Homo sapiens: one gene and its partners. The protein of the gene in region 4 purifies or fractionates together with the protein of the main gene of each other region. This does not show direct contact. Each region holds a gene or a part of one and is shown on either strand. Other genes may lie near its edges.

Region 1 (3,500 bases), on a different chromosome or scaffold from region 4:
ACCAGCCTGGCCAACACGGTGAAACCCTGACTCCACTAAAAATACAAAAATTAGCCAGGCGTGGTGGTGTGCGCCTGTAGTCCCTGCAACTCAGGAGGCTGAGGCACAAGGATTGCTTGACCGCGAGGTGGAGGTTGCAATGAGCCGAGACTGTGCCATTGTACTCCAGCCTGGGTGACAGAGCGAGACTCTCTCAAAAACAAACAAACAAAAAACAAAAAAACAAAAAATAACTACAATACAAACTCCTCAAATAAAGTAGTCCATCTGTATTGTCCAATATGGTAGCCACTAGTCACATGTGGCTGCTTAAAATTAAATTGAAATTAAATAAAATTTAAAATTCGAATCTTCAGCTGCACTAGCCACAAGTCAAATGCTCAACAGCCACTAGTTTGTGGTTATCATATTGGACAGCAGAAATATAGAACATTTCCCTTATCACAAAAGTTCTACTGGCCAGTCCCGGACTCTACACTAGTTCAAGAGGCCAGGCACCGTGGCTCACACCTGTAATCCCAGCACCTTGGGAGGCTGAAGCAGGAGGATCACTTTGAGCCCAGGAGTTAGAGACAAGCCTGGGCAACATAGCAAGACCCCACCTCTACTAAAAATACAAAAATTAGCCAGGCGTGGTGGTGCATGCCTGTAGTCCTAGCTAGAATCCCTTTAACCCAGGAGGCGGAGGTTGCAGTGCACTGCACTGCAGCCTGGGTGACAGAGTAAGGCTCTGTCTCAAAAAAAAAAAAAAAGGCCCATTAGAGACGGCAACCAAATATTAACTGTTTTTCATTATGAGGAAAGAAATACAAATGTGAATGCTGGAAGGATGGAGGATGAAACTCCCTCCATCTCCACACTATGCAGCCTAGCAGCCCACTCTATTAACATTCAATGACTGGCGGACTACTGCCCACATGACTGTCCAAAGGTTATGCCTGCATGGCAGGAACTTTAGTCCTTAAGACTCAAAGTCCAGTACTCTAAGGTAGAAGATAGGAATTTAAATTTTTCAAATGATAAACGTTCTTATTGTTCTATCCTGGAAACACATGACCATCCATAAACCACAAATTCTTATCTCCTTCGTGATTCTGGGAGAGGTACTGATTAGATGGTTCACTCTCTCCTGCTTTGCACCAAAACTCTGACAACTGGTTCCTCATGGGGGTTCTCATTAAAGAACCAGCCCAGCCCACAGTCCCCTCCCTGCTTTGGCCACCTGGGCAGCACTGTGGGAAAGAGAATTCAGCCCAGCCAGGCTGGTCCTGTGGGTGGAGGATCAGAGAGAACCAGAAAGCCGTGCTACCTGATTCTCTAGAGAAGTGACAGGCAGAGGAGGGACAGGCAGGCAGATCAGTCCGAGGCTCAGCTGGAAGGCAGGGGGGTTGTGTATCCTGTGGTACAGCTTTTAACAAATCATGCTGGCCAAGAAGCAAGGTGATGAAACATGTCACACATACACTGACCTGGCAACATCAGCCTCTTTTGTCAGGATGGGGGCTGTGGTGATAGTCTGGAATAACCGCCTGCTTGAAATCATGTTTAAAACAAGACAGCCCTACAGAAATACAAGCCAGTCTCCTGCTGGATAAAACAGGAGCCAAAAGCCACTTGACCCTTTACGTTTAAGGAGCCCAAAGTCTTCAGGCTCTAGTGGAGCCCACAACAGGCTTTGATTTGAACGTTTCTCACTGAATTAGCATGAGTACATGTAACTGTCATCAGCCAGGTCACCCCTCAAAGGTGAAGTGCTAGAAAGAGCATCATGTAAGTGACTATTTGCCACATGGCTGAAAGGAATTAAAATAGCCCTCTATTGGTGTGCTATATAGCAGATGGAAAAAATAGAACCTCAGCACCCAAAACATTCTCCTGTTGGCCAAACTTGCACTTTTAAATAAGAGGAAAAGCAGGGAGATCAAAGACAGTTTTGCCTTTCTTTTTTTGTTCTTTCTTTCTTTTTCTTTCTTTCTTTCTTCTCTCTCCTTCCTTCTTTCTTTCTTTTTTTTGAGACAGGGTCTCCCTCTGTTGCCCAGGCTAGAGTGCAGTGGCACGATCTCAGTTCACTGCAACCTCTGCCTCTGGGGTTCAAGCAATTCTTGTGCCTCAGTCTCCCCAAGTAGCTGGGACTACAGGTGTGCACCATCATACCCGGCTAATTTTTGTATTTTTAGTAGAGACAGGGTTTTGCCATGTTGGCCAGGCTGGACTTGAACTCCTGGCCTCAAATGATCTGCCTGCCTCGGCCTTCCAAAGTGCTGGGATTACAGGCATGAGCCACTGTGCTCAGCCTGGGGTTTTGCCTTTCTAAATGAGGTGAAGTGGCCAGATGCAGTGGCTCAGGGCTGTAATCCCAGCACTTTGGGAGGCCCAGGTGGGCGGATTACCTGAGGTCAGGAGTTCGAGACCAGCCTGGCCAACATGGTGAAATCCTGTCTCTACTAAAAATACAAAATTAGCCAGGTATGGTGGCAGGCATCTCAGTAATCTCAGCTACTCAGGAGGCTGAGGCAGGAGAATCGCTTGAACCTGGGAGGCAGAGTTTGCAATGAGCTGAGATCGAGCCATTGCACTCCAGCCTGGGTGACAGAGCGAGACTCCGTCTCAAAACAAAACAAAAAAAAAGGAGGTGAAGTTGGTCTACAGTACTTTCCAACTGCAGGAACAAAGTTGATGTTAAACAAAAAAATGAGCCCTGTTAATAAACACTGGCAGGCTTTGGCAGGACAAGACTTCTCACTCCCAGCACAAAGTCTAGCATTCAGGGTCCTTGTGCACTGATCCACATCTTCTTTCTAGCCAGAATCTCCTTCCCAGAGACCTCAGTAGCCCAGGAAGATAAACACCAGAAAAAAGGATATATGGTAAAGCCACACTCAGAATTTCATAGTTAAAAGTAAAATACAGTTTTGTTTAGTACTTTATCTAAATAAAACAAAAATCGAATCTATCTATTTTAAAAGCAATAGTAAATACCAAGCAAAATTTAGGTTACAATTACATTTCTGTGCTTTTTTTTGCTTTTTTTTTTAATTTGAGACAGGGTCTTGCTCTGTTGCCCAGGCTAGACTGTAGTGGCGCACTGCAGCCTCGACCTCCTGGGCCCAAGTGATCCTTCCACCTCAGCCTCCTGAGCAGCTGGGACCACAGGCATGCACCACCACGCCCAGCTAATTTTTCATTTTTTGCAGAGATGGGGTCTCTCTATGTTACCCAGGCTGTTCTCGAACCCCTGGCCTCAAGCAATCCTCCTGCTTTGCCCTCCCAAAGTGGTGGGCAGGCACGAGCCACCATGCTCAGCCCTGTGCGAATTCTTAGAACAAAGACTTCATTTTGTGTAGACTCTTTTACGGTATGATAAGTCCTTCCAATTAACATTTGGTCATCACTGTGCTATCATAAAGAAGCCATTTTTGCAAAAATATCTTATGGCCTCACTGATTTCTCAAGGGCCTCTCAATTGTTTGATTTTCAAGTCTCTCCCCTAAAGGAGTGTT
Region 2 (3,500 bases), on a different chromosome or scaffold from region 4:
GGGCGGATCACGAGGTCAGGAGATCAAGACCATCCTGGCTAACACGGTGAAACCCCGTCTCTACTAAAAATACAAAAAATTAGCCAGGCGTGGTGGTGGGCGCCTGTAGTCCCAGCTACTCAGGAGGCTAAGGCAGGAGGATGGAGTGAACCCGGGAGGCGGAGCTTGCAGTGAGCCCAGATCGAACCACTGCACTCCTGCCTGGGCGACAGAGTGAGACTCTGTCTCAAAAAAAAAAAAAAAAAAAAAAAGGCCGGGCACGGTGGCTCATGCCTGTAATCTCAGCACTTTGGGAGGCCGAGGCAGGTGGATCATCTGAGGTTGGGAGTTCGAGACCAGCCTGACCAACATGGAGAAACCCTGTCTTTACTAAAAATACAAAATTAGCCTTGTGTGGTGTCGCATGCCTGTAATCCCAGCTACTCAGGTGGCTGAGGCAAGAGAATAGCTTGATCCTGGGGGTCGGAGGTTGTGGTGAGCTAAGATCCTGCCATTGCACTTCAGCCTGGGCAATAAGAGCGAAACTCCGGTCTCAAACAAACAAACAAAAAACACCAAAGAAAAAAAAAAAACCAGCTGGGCTTCCTGCTGGCTCACACCTGTAGTCCCTGCTACTCAGGAGGCTAAGGGTGGGAGGAGGATTTCTTGAGCCTGGGAGTTTGAGGCTGCAGTCAGCTACGATTGTACCACTGCACTCCAGCCTGGGTGACAAAGTGAGACCCTGAGACCCTGTCTCTAAAAATAAAACAGAAAGCTGTTAAGCTGTTAAAAACAAAAACAAAAAAATATATATATATATAGTCAAGAAAACTCTGACCTCCAGCTCTTCTCTCTTACCACCTCCTATAGACTCTTGCAGAACTTGAGGTACCCTCAAACCTCAGCCCCTAGAGGAAACCCAGCTCAGCTGCCTGGTGCAGCGGGGAGGAAGTCTGTCCTGCTCTCACCTCTTCTTGACCCTGACCTGCAGTCCTTTACCAAATCCTGGTCACTGAAGTATTCAAATACTTGTCTGTCCTTCCCTTCTTGAATACGGTCACTGCCCACAACATGGGCCGCGTGGACAAGGACCATAGCCAACTGCTCATTGGCTTCCAGTAAATCCAGCCTTCAGCTATCTAATCCCTGGCCTGCTCAGAAACCCTCCATGACTCCCTATCACCCCAAGAAGGAAAGTCCCAGCTCCTCCACCTGGCATTCAAGGCTCTGCCAACCTCACCCTTCCTCCCATCAATCAATTTTTTTTTTTTTTTTAGGGGCAGTGTCTCTCTCTGTCACCTGGGCTGGAATGCAGTGGTGCAATCATAGCTGACTGTAACCTCAAATTCCTGGGCTTGACCAGGCTCAGTGGCTCACACCTATAATCCCAGCACTTTGGGAAACTGAGGCAGGAGGATCTCTTGCGGTCAGGCGTTCAAGACCAGCCTGGCTAACATGGTAAACCCTATCTCTACTAAAAATACAAAAAAATTAGCTGGGCATGATGGTGGGCACCTTAATCCCAGCAACTCGGGAGGCTCAGGCAGCAGAATCGGTTGAACCCAGGAGGTGGAGGAGGCTGCAGTGAGCCAAGATGGCACCACTGCACTCCAGCCTGGGCCACAGAGTGAGACTCCATCTCAAAAAAACAAAAACAAAAACAAAAAAATTCCTGGGTTCAAGTGATCCTCCCACTTGAGCCTCCAGAGTAGTTGAGAATACAAGCATATGCCACTGTACCCTAATTTTTTTATTTTTTCTTAGAGACAGGGTCTCGCTATGTTGCCCAGGCTGGTCTCGAACTCCTGGGCTCAAACAATCCTCTTGCTTTGGCCTCCCAAAGCACTGGGATTACAGGTGTGAGCCACTGCACCTGGCCTACACCAACCTACCTCCTCCTCCTCCTGCCTCCATCAAGATTTCTCCCTGCTCCCAACTTTTGCCCAGGCTGTTCCTCCTGCCCAGAATGCCTGTCCTTATGAACTCCTACACATCCTTCAAAGCCCAGCTAGTGGTCGCCTCCTCTAGGAATTACACCTCTAACCTTTTTGGAGAAGATTGAGCCATCCAGGGAGGCTTCTTTATGTTTACACCAGGGGTGGGGCAAGACCAAGCTAGAGTCTCTCTCAGGTACCACCCTCCCACATAACTTTTACTCCTTTGCTACCTGTGCCAGCCATCTGCTCCATTTCACAGAGGTAAAAACTAAGGCAAAGTGGGGCACCCACAGTCATAGAGGGAGAAATGTGGCAGAGCCAGGTCTCAAACCTGGAGTTCTATGCTCTCAGCTATCAGGCAGAGCCGCGCGTGGTGGCTCAAGCCTGTAATCCCAGCACTTCGGGAGGCTGAGGCGGGTGGATCACCAGAGGTCTAGAGTTCGAGACCAGCCTGGCCAACTTGGCGAAACCCTGTCTCTACTAAAAATACAAAAATTAGCCAGGCGTGGTGCCAGGTGCCTGTAATCCCAGCTACTGGAGAGGATGAGGCAGGAGAACTGCTTGAACCCGGGAGATGGAGGTTGCAGTGATCCAGCCTGGGCGACAGAGCAAGACTGTGTGTCAAAAAAAAGAAAAAAAAAAAAAAAAAAAAAAAGACCTATCAGGCAGAGATGCAGAAAAGACCTTCAAAGAGGTTTCCCTGGGGTTTCCAGAAGCTGCTGGGAATGTTCGGGGACTTCCCTCACCTGGGAAGGTCAGCATCTGCTCACCCACCCTCCAAATCAGAAGCAAAGCTGATCATTTGATCATTTACCCAGAGGCTTCCTTGCCCTGACACAATGATAGGAGAACATCCTTTGTCACTCACCGTGTCATTTTCCCCATCAGAGGAGGTCTCACCTGATTGCAAAGTAAATGCAGAAGTCATGTCCCAAGCTATTAAAGGCCTTGCTGGGACTGGAACCCAAGGCTAATCCCAAAGCTACTTGGCCAGTTTTTATTTTTTAGAGACAGGGTCTTTCTCTGTCACCCAGGCTGGAGTGCAGTGGTGTCATCACGGCTCACTACAGCCTGGACCTCCCAGGCTCAGGTGATCCTCCCACCTCAGCCTCCTGAGTAGCTGGGACTACTAGTATGCCAGCACGCTTGGTTAGGTTTTTTATTTTTTGTAGATATGGGGTCTTGCTATGTTGCCCAGGCTGGTGTCCAACTCCTGGCCTCCAAGCGATCCTTCTACTTCGGCCTTCTAAATCACTGGGATTATAGGCATGAGCCACGTGCCTAGCCTGCCCAGTGCTCTTCTGTTTTTTCTTCTTTGATTTTGTTTTGTTTTCATTTGAATTCCTTATTTTGGCCTTGATAACTCTTTCCCACCATTCGAAGTCCCCAAAGTAGGAAGGACGCAAAGAGAAATTCTCGGCTGGGGGCAGTGGCTCACGCCTGTAATCCCAGCACTTTGGGAGGCCGAGGCGGGCAGATCACAAGGTCAGGAGATCAAGACCAGCCTGGCCAACATGATGAAATCCCGTCTCTACTAAAAATACAAAAATTAGCCGGGCGTGGTGCTGGGCGCCTGTAATTCCA
Region 3 (3,500 bases), on a different chromosome or scaffold from region 4:
TCCCTGCACCACAGCGGTGAGTATGGATGATAACGGAGAGCAGGGGAGGGCAGAAAGTGAGTAAGTGCTGCCTCAGGAAACTCTTACCGCCTGTCCTTAATGAAGGAATAGTAGTGGCCTGCGTGTGCCTGCCCACTGTGTACGATGACACCGACAAGTTCATAGTTTTCTGTGAGGGCAACCTTTTTTCGTGGGGATCCTCCACCGCCCTGATCCACACTTCGCCCATTTTCCCCAACTTCAGAAGAAGAATCTTGGCGAGCCATTCCTGAAACTGTGTAAGGCTCCATGTTTAGCATCCAGGGAAACTATGTAGAAGCAAAAAGACCATATTAACGTTGATTACTAACATATACAGCAGTACCCAGTTAAGTGAGATCCAAATAAGAGGAAGTGTTTTCCTAGTTTAAGCTAGGAACAACTACCTCACCAGTTCAAGTATAAAATCTCAGAAATGTTAAGTCTGGGAACGTCTAAAGTAGCCTCTGGTTTGAGCCCTAAGGAAGGCATTTTCCTTCATAGTAATCACTAGGATGCCTTCTAGAAATGAGGGCCACTGTTTCCAGATCTGCCTATTCCGGTAACAGCAGCTGCCTAAGATAAGGGGCTCTTCATAATGCTGAGACAACAGCCTTAACATGGTAGACAGAATATGAAAATTGAAAAAGGAAAAAAAAAGAAGTGAGTGAGGAAATGAATGGTTGTGAAAAATTTCAGGAAGAAAAAAAGTTACCCTTATTTGTTCATCATATTTAATGGAGCGTCCGCTTTCCCAGTCAAACCCAAATCTCATTAGGTGAATTACCAAGACGCTAGGTAAAGATTTAATACAGGTCCTTTTCACTGTTATTCTCTAAAGAAAAAAAAAAGGAAAAAGAGCAAATCTGAATGATCTCCATGGAGAAAATAAAACAGCACAGTAATTAATGCAAAGGCCTTTCTGATCCATGTGAAAACAAGTAATGACACAATCTAATGGAAATAACAGTAGGAGCTTAATACTGATTTTACATAAAACAAAGACGCACTATGCGAATAACAAATTAATCTTGTTTTTTAAAAAGGGCAAACATAATACCTTTTCTTTACACTTTTCACAGTAGTACGCATTACTTCCTTCTAGAACTTCTCCTCTAACAAATTGGTCCAAAGAAATTTCCAAACTCTGACAAGAAGTCACTCCTAGATTGAGAGCCATGAAAGCTTCTTCACGCTCATATCTGATTAGGAAATAACAGAAAACCCACAATCAACAATGGAATTTAAAACTCTTCAATTATCATAATACCTAAGCTTGAACACAGAACTACATTTTTAATCTGGGAGTCCCTCAATATTTTAAAAGTCCATTACTAAGTTAAAATGCCACTTTGTGACAATTAAGAATTGCCTAAAATTATGAATTTCAATGAATATTTTCTTAAGCCCACAAAGAAATTTTTTCTCCTTCTGGAAGTAGAAAGCAAAGAAATTTAAGTCACTAAATACTTATAGATCTGTTGACAGGGAGAGAGTTCTAAGTCTCTTAACAAATGCAAAATTTACAACATACTAAACAAATCACTTCAAAAGGATGATCATTTTTCCTGTGTCGGTGATATCTTCACTCACCTGTGAGGACAGTCTTTACAGATCTTCTGATCAGAGTAGATGCCCTGAAATGTATTCTTAAAAATTTGGTCTCTCCCCATTTTCTGTTGGAATGAAAAGTTACAGTTTTAAGTGATGCCTCCTGAACTTATGAGTATACAGAATTTTATTAACACATTGCAATTTAAGGACCAAAACAAAACGCGTCATTCTGGTAGTATCAGCTGTGGTGAATGGAGGCTAAACCCATTATTGGCCCCACTGTCAGAGTGATGCAGACGATCAGAAGAGGAAGAGGAGGAGGGATGGGTCAGGTAGAGCTAATGACAAGAGAGTGTTCTCCAGGGTGATTCTGAATCCTTCTCCCTGTGCTACAAGGACCAAGTTAGGGGCAACTCTCAGCAATCTTTTCTTTTTTCTTGTGGATAGAATGCCATCAATTTGCAAGTTACTTTAAAAAATGGAAGAATTGTGCCTACTGATGAGAGGCCAATGCTGGCAGTGACAGCGGGATCTGAGAAGGCAATACCGTTTAGGAAGTCTGCCACATGGCTTACAGGGTAGAGGTAGAGAGCTTTGGGTTTCAACAGCACCACGAATAACTTTTTAATCTGGCTCCTTTCTCCCCTGTGCCAGAGCACTCTCTGCTCTGCACAGGGCCATCAGCTCACCAGTGACTGCAGCACTCTTCTGAGGCCAGATTATTTCAGTAGACACACAGAAAGAATATGTAGGTAGGAATGGTTATTACTATGTAGTAGAGATTAAGAGTTACATACTTTACTGAGCGTTAGATGAATTAAGAAAATATGCAATTCTAGGCCAGGCATGGTACCTCAAGCCTGTAATCCCAGCACTTTGGGAGGCTGAGGTGGGTGAATCTCTGGAGGCCAGGAGTTTGAGACCAGCCTGGCCAACATGGCGAAACCCAATCTCTGCCAAAAAGTACAAAAATTAGCCGGGCGTGGTGGTGCACACCTGTGATCCCAGCTACTCGGGAGGCTGAGGTGCAAGAATCTCTTGTACCTGGAAGGTAGAGGTTGCAGTGAGCTGAGATTGTGCCACTGCACTCCACTCTGGGTGACAGAGCGAGACTCTGTCTCAAAAAAAAAGAAAAGAAAAAAAAGAGAAAATATACAATTCTATTGATCTGTGTTATGTTTTGATGTTTAAACACAGAATACATTATAGTTCTTATGTTAAAGATAATCAATTTCTGATTCGTCAGTTTCATAGTAACCCCAAATGCTAAGACACTATTCTCATACTATAATTAGAGTTTGAGGGAGTTAGAGGGAAAGTACAACTTTTACTACCTTGAGGTATTCATCCATCTGATCAATGAGACTAGTAAAGAATTCATATGCATCCTGCTGTTCTCTCACATAAAGTTCTTTATTCCACATCTTGAAAATCTATATAACAAAAATTAAATGTTTTTAAAGGAAAAGTAGCAATTTCTGAATGTGGTAGAAAGGGAACATGAAAGAGCACTTAAATGCTTATAAAAATCAGGTTCACTATTAGGATGTGGACATTTCTAGTGAAGTGAGACTAGCTTGTATTCAGCCATCCACCCTTTTTTCTAGTCCCCTTACAATCATAACAAGTCTCTGAAATCAAAAGTGGGTACTGGGTAAGATCTAGGCCATGGAACAGAGAATTTCTCTCTTAGAAACAAATCAACCTATGGGGAAAAACACAAGGTGATCCTCCAATATGTGAAACACAGTAAAGCAATGTTTAAAAATAGTATTCTTGGCCGGATGTGGTGTCTCACGCCTGTAATCCCAGCACTCTGGGAGGCCGAGGCAGGCGGATCACCTGAGGTCGGGAGTTCAAGACTAGCCTGACCAACACGGAGAAACCCCATCTCTACTGAAAACACAAAATTAGCCGGGCATGGGGGT
Region 4 (3,985 bases):
GTTATCCATTGCTACATATTACATTACCACAAACAGCAGCTTAAGAACAAACATTAGGAATTTGGCACAGTTAAGCTGGGTGCCTCTGGCTCAAGGACTCTCAGGAGTATGCAGTTCAGCTGTCAATAGGGTTTGCCCAGGTCTATCCTGGATTTAGCAGTGCAAGTTCCCTGTTCTAGGAAACTTCTCAGTCCCGGGAAAATTGGGATACTTGTCAGCCATTGGCCAGGGCTGTGGTCTCATCTGAAGGTTTGGCTGGTGATGACCTGCTTCCAAGCTCACTCATGTGGTTTGGCAGCCTTGTTCCCTTGCCATGTAGACACCTGCACAGGGCTGCCTCACAATATGGCTGCCGGCTTCCCTCAGAGCTTTCCAAGAGAGAAGGAGAGAAAGAGAGCCAGGATGAAAGCCAGTGTCTTTTTATAGCATAATCTTGGAAGTGATATCCATCACTTTTTCTTTTTCTTTCTTTTTTTTTTCTGCGACTGGGTCTCACTCTGTTACCCAGCCACCAGGTCATGGCTCACTGCAGCCTCAACCTCCCAGACTCAGACGAGCCTCCCACCTCAGCCCTCAGCTTTCCAAGTAGCTGGGACTACAGACATTTGCCACCATATCTGGCTAATTTAAAAAAAAAAGTGTTTTTTTTGTTTGTTTGTTTTGTTTTGTTTTTTTTCTGTAGTGTAGAGATAGAGTCTCACTATGTTGCCCAGGCTGGTCTGGAACTCTTGACCTCAAGTGATCCTCCTACCTCGGCCTCCCAAAGTGCTGAGATTACAGGTGTGAGCCACTGCACCCAGCCATAGATTGGTTTTTGAATGCTAAGTCACCTTGCATTCTTAGAATAAACTCCACTTTGCTGTGATGTGTTATTTTTTTATGTATCATAAAATTTGATTTGTTGGCATTTTGTTTAGGAGGTCTACACTGTTTTTTTCTTTCTTTCTTTCTTTTTTTTTTTTTGAGACAGGGTCTCACTCCATCACCTAGGCTGGAGTGCAGTGACATGATTTCAGCTCACTGCAGCCTCTGCCTCCTGGGTTCAAACAATTCTCCTGCCTCAGCTTCCCGAGTAGCTGGGACTATAGGCACCTGCCACCATGGCGCCTGGCTAATTTTTCCATTTTTAGTAAAGATGGGGTTTCACCATCTTGGCTAGGCTGGTCTCGAACTCCTGACCTCAGGTGATCCACCCACCTCAGCCTCCCAAAGTGCTGGAACTGCAGGCGTGAGCCACCATGCCTGGCCAGGCCTACACTGTTTTGAAGCGTCTGTTATTATTATTATTATTTTTCACAAGAAATCCTTTTTCATTGAAGAGACATTGAAAATATGTTTAATGAGAAAACCTCAATTAAAAAGTTTATTTTAAAAAAAACCCCTTATGTATGACTCAGATATAATCACAGTGAACATTTTAGTGTCCAGAGTGATTTTAAAAGAATTGAACACTTACAAAACTTAACACTCAGTAAACTGAGTCACACAGAAATTATATAATTAAAACCAATTTATAAAGGAACTATCACTGTTATTAATATTTCTTTTTTTTTTTTTTTCCAAGATGGAGTCTCCCAGGCTGGAGTGCAGTGGCGTGATCTTAGCTCACTGCAACCTCTGCCTCCTGGGTTCAGACAATTCTCATGCCTCAGCCTCCCAAGTAGCTGGGATTACAGGTGCTTGCCACCACGCCCGGCTAATTTTTGTACTTTTAGTAGAGATGGGGTTTCAGCATGTTGGACAGGCTGGTCTCGAACTCCTGACCTTGTGATCCACCCACCTCAGCCTCTCAAAGTGCTGGGATTACAGGTGTGGGCCATCGCGCCTGGCCAATATTTCCATCATAGAAATGTTTGACGTGTACCTTGACATGTCCCATGGTGAATGCTGATCCGTTGTCTAATTTTTCACAGTCCTCTTTTGCAAATCACCATGTCATATTATTTCCATGACAAGCTTGTCAAAGTGACAAGAGCCCTCGCATGATATGATCCCCCTTTCTATTAGCTCTGCTGGGAAATGGCCTTCTTTCTTCTATAGGGCTGTTCCTTGTGCCTACGCGGTAGTGATTATATCCAATTTGTGTTCTATCATTTTAATGATTTATTTGCCTCCTCAGGTTCCTGATAGCTCATAATTCCTAGATCACTTGCAGTGATGTAAGTCATTGACTTATTCAGAAACTGAGATGAGGCTTATTTTCCACATCATTAAATGTTGAGCCATCATTTTTCATAGCTGCATAATGCTCCATCACATGGCTGGGCCATAATTTAACCAGTTCCACAGTGTTGGACACTCAGGTTGTTGGGAATTTGGGGAAGGGATTAAAAAGTTATCTATTATGGGCCAGGCGCACTGGCTCATGCCAGTAACCCCAGCACTTTGGGAGGCTGAGGCAAGTGGATCACTTGAGGTTAGGAGTTCAAGACCAGCCTGGGCAACATGGTGAAACCCCGTCTCTACAAAAAATACAAAAATCAGCCAGGTGTGGTGGCGGGCACCTGTAATCCCAGCTATTTGGGAGGCCGAGGCAGGAGAATTGCTTGAACCTGGGAGGCGGAGGTTGCAGTGAGCCAAAACCACTCCACTGCACTCCAGCCTGGGTGACAGAGTGAGACTCTGTCTGAAAAACAAAACAAAACAAATTATCTGTTATGGAAACATTCATACACAGTGGCAGAGAGAATAGTGTAATGCTGAGTGGGCGCCTGTGGTCACTCACACCTATCATCCCAGTGCTTTGGGAGGCCGAAGTGGGAGGACTGCTTTAGGCCAGAAGTTTGAGTCCAGCCTAGGCAACATAGAGAGACTCTGTCTCTACAAAAAATATGAAAATTAGCCAGGTGTGGTGGCACATGCCTGTAGTCCCAGCTACTCAGGAAGCTGAGGCAGGAGGATCCCTTGAGCCCAGGAGTTAAAGGCTACAGTGAACTAGGATTGTACCACTACACTCCTGCCTAGGTGACAGTGTAAGACTCTGTCTCTTTAAAAAAAAAAAAAAGTGTAATGTTTTGTACTCATCACTCAGCTTCCGAATCCCCAGTTCCCTGCCAATCTTGTACCATCTGTGCCCTCCCCCCCCACCCCCACTCTTGTGATTTTGAAGCAAATTCAAGACATCATCATACTTAATCCATTTCAAAATGTATTTCTAAAAGATAAAGATTCTTTGAAAAATTCATAAAGCAAAAGCAATCAATAATTCCTTAATATCCTCTGATCTCTAGTTGCTATTCTAGTTTCCTGTTATCTTACTCTTTTTTTTTTAACTTTGTTTACTGAAATCAGAATCAGAATAAAGTCTACCCATTGTAATAGGTTGATAGGTCTCTTAAATTTATTTAGACCATGTGCAGTGGCTGACGCCTGTAATCCCAGCACTTTGGGAGGTCGAGCTGTGTGGATCACTTGAGCCAAAGAGTTCAAGACCAGCCTGGGCAACATGGTGAAACCCTGTCTCTACCAAAAATACAAAAATTAGCTGGGTGTGGTGGCGGGTGCCTGTAGTCCCACCTACTTAGGGGTGCTGAGGCAGGAGGATTGCTTGAACCAGGGAGGGTGAGGCTGCAGTAAGCTGAGATTGCACCACCGCACTCCAGCCTGGGTGATAAAGTGAGATTTTATCTCAAAAAAAAAAAACTTTAATTTTGTTTATTTTTTATGTATTTATTTTTTTGAGGTGGAGTCTCACTCTTTTTGCCCAGGCTGGAGTGCAATGACGTGATCTTGGCTCACTGCAACCTCTGCCTCCTGGATTCAAGCGATTCTCCTGCCTCAGTCTCCTGAGTAGCTGGGATTACAGGCACACACCACCACGCCCAGCTAATTTTTGTATTTTTAGTAGAGATGGGGTTTCACCATGTTGGCCAGGCTAGTCTCGAACTCTTGAACTCAGGTGATCCGCGTACCTTGGCTTCCTAAAGGGTTGGGATTACAGACATGAGCCACCTCACCTGGCCTGAGTATGGATTTTTGGTTCTTT

Evidence for each region. The genes of interacting proteins can lie anywhere in the genome.
Region 1: the proteins of NCS1 (region 4) and ABHD6 purify together in Homo sapiens (affinity purification with mass spectrometry; 2 studies listed by BioGRID and IntAct, with this or other methods). This does not show direct contact.
Region 2: the proteins of NCS1 (region 4) and ICAM1 purify together in Homo sapiens (affinity purification with mass spectrometry; 2 studies listed by BioGRID and IntAct, with this or other methods). This does not show direct contact.
Region 3: the proteins of NCS1 (region 4) and USP24 purify together in Homo sapiens (affinity purification with mass spectrometry; 2 studies listed by BioGRID and IntAct, with this or other methods). This does not show direct contact.

What each region holds. Positions count from the first base shown.
Region 1 is NC_000003.12:58,244,292-58,247,791, reverse strand, and holds part of ABHD6 (monoacylglycerol lipase ABHD6), read right to left. Parts: intron 1-3,500. UniProt on the Homo sapiens protein: Lipase that preferentially hydrolysis medium-chain saturated monoacylglycerols including 2-arachidonoylglycerol. Through 2-arachidonoylglycerol degradation may regulate endocannabinoid signaling pathways.
Region 2 is NC_000019.10:10,277,620-10,281,119, reverse strand, and holds part of ICAM1 (intercellular adhesion molecule 1 precursor), read right to left. Parts: intron 1-3,500. UniProt on the Homo sapiens protein: ICAM proteins are ligands for the leukocyte adhesion protein LFA-1 (integrin alpha-L/beta-2).
Region 3 is NC_000001.11:55,096,865-55,100,364, forward strand, and holds part of USP24 (ubiquitin carboxyl-terminal hydrolase 24), read right to left. Parts: intron 3,006-3,500; coding exon 2,907-3,005; intron 1,695-2,906; coding exon 1,612-1,694; intron 1,221-1,611; coding exon 1,079-1,220; intron 854-1,078; coding exon 734-853; intron 309-733; coding exon 88-308; intron 1-87. UniProt on the Homo sapiens protein: Ubiquitin-specific protease that regulates cell survival in various contexts through modulating the protein stability of some of its substrates including DDB2, MCL1 or TP53.
Region 4 is NC_000009.12:130,227,722-130,231,706, forward strand, and holds part of NCS1 (neuronal calcium sensor 1), read left to right. Parts: intron 1-3,985. UniProt on the Homo sapiens protein: Neuronal calcium sensor, regulator of G protein-coupled receptor phosphorylation in a calcium dependent manner. Directly regulates GRK1 (RHOK), but not GRK2 to GRK5. Can substitute for calmodulin. Stimulates PI4KB kinase activity.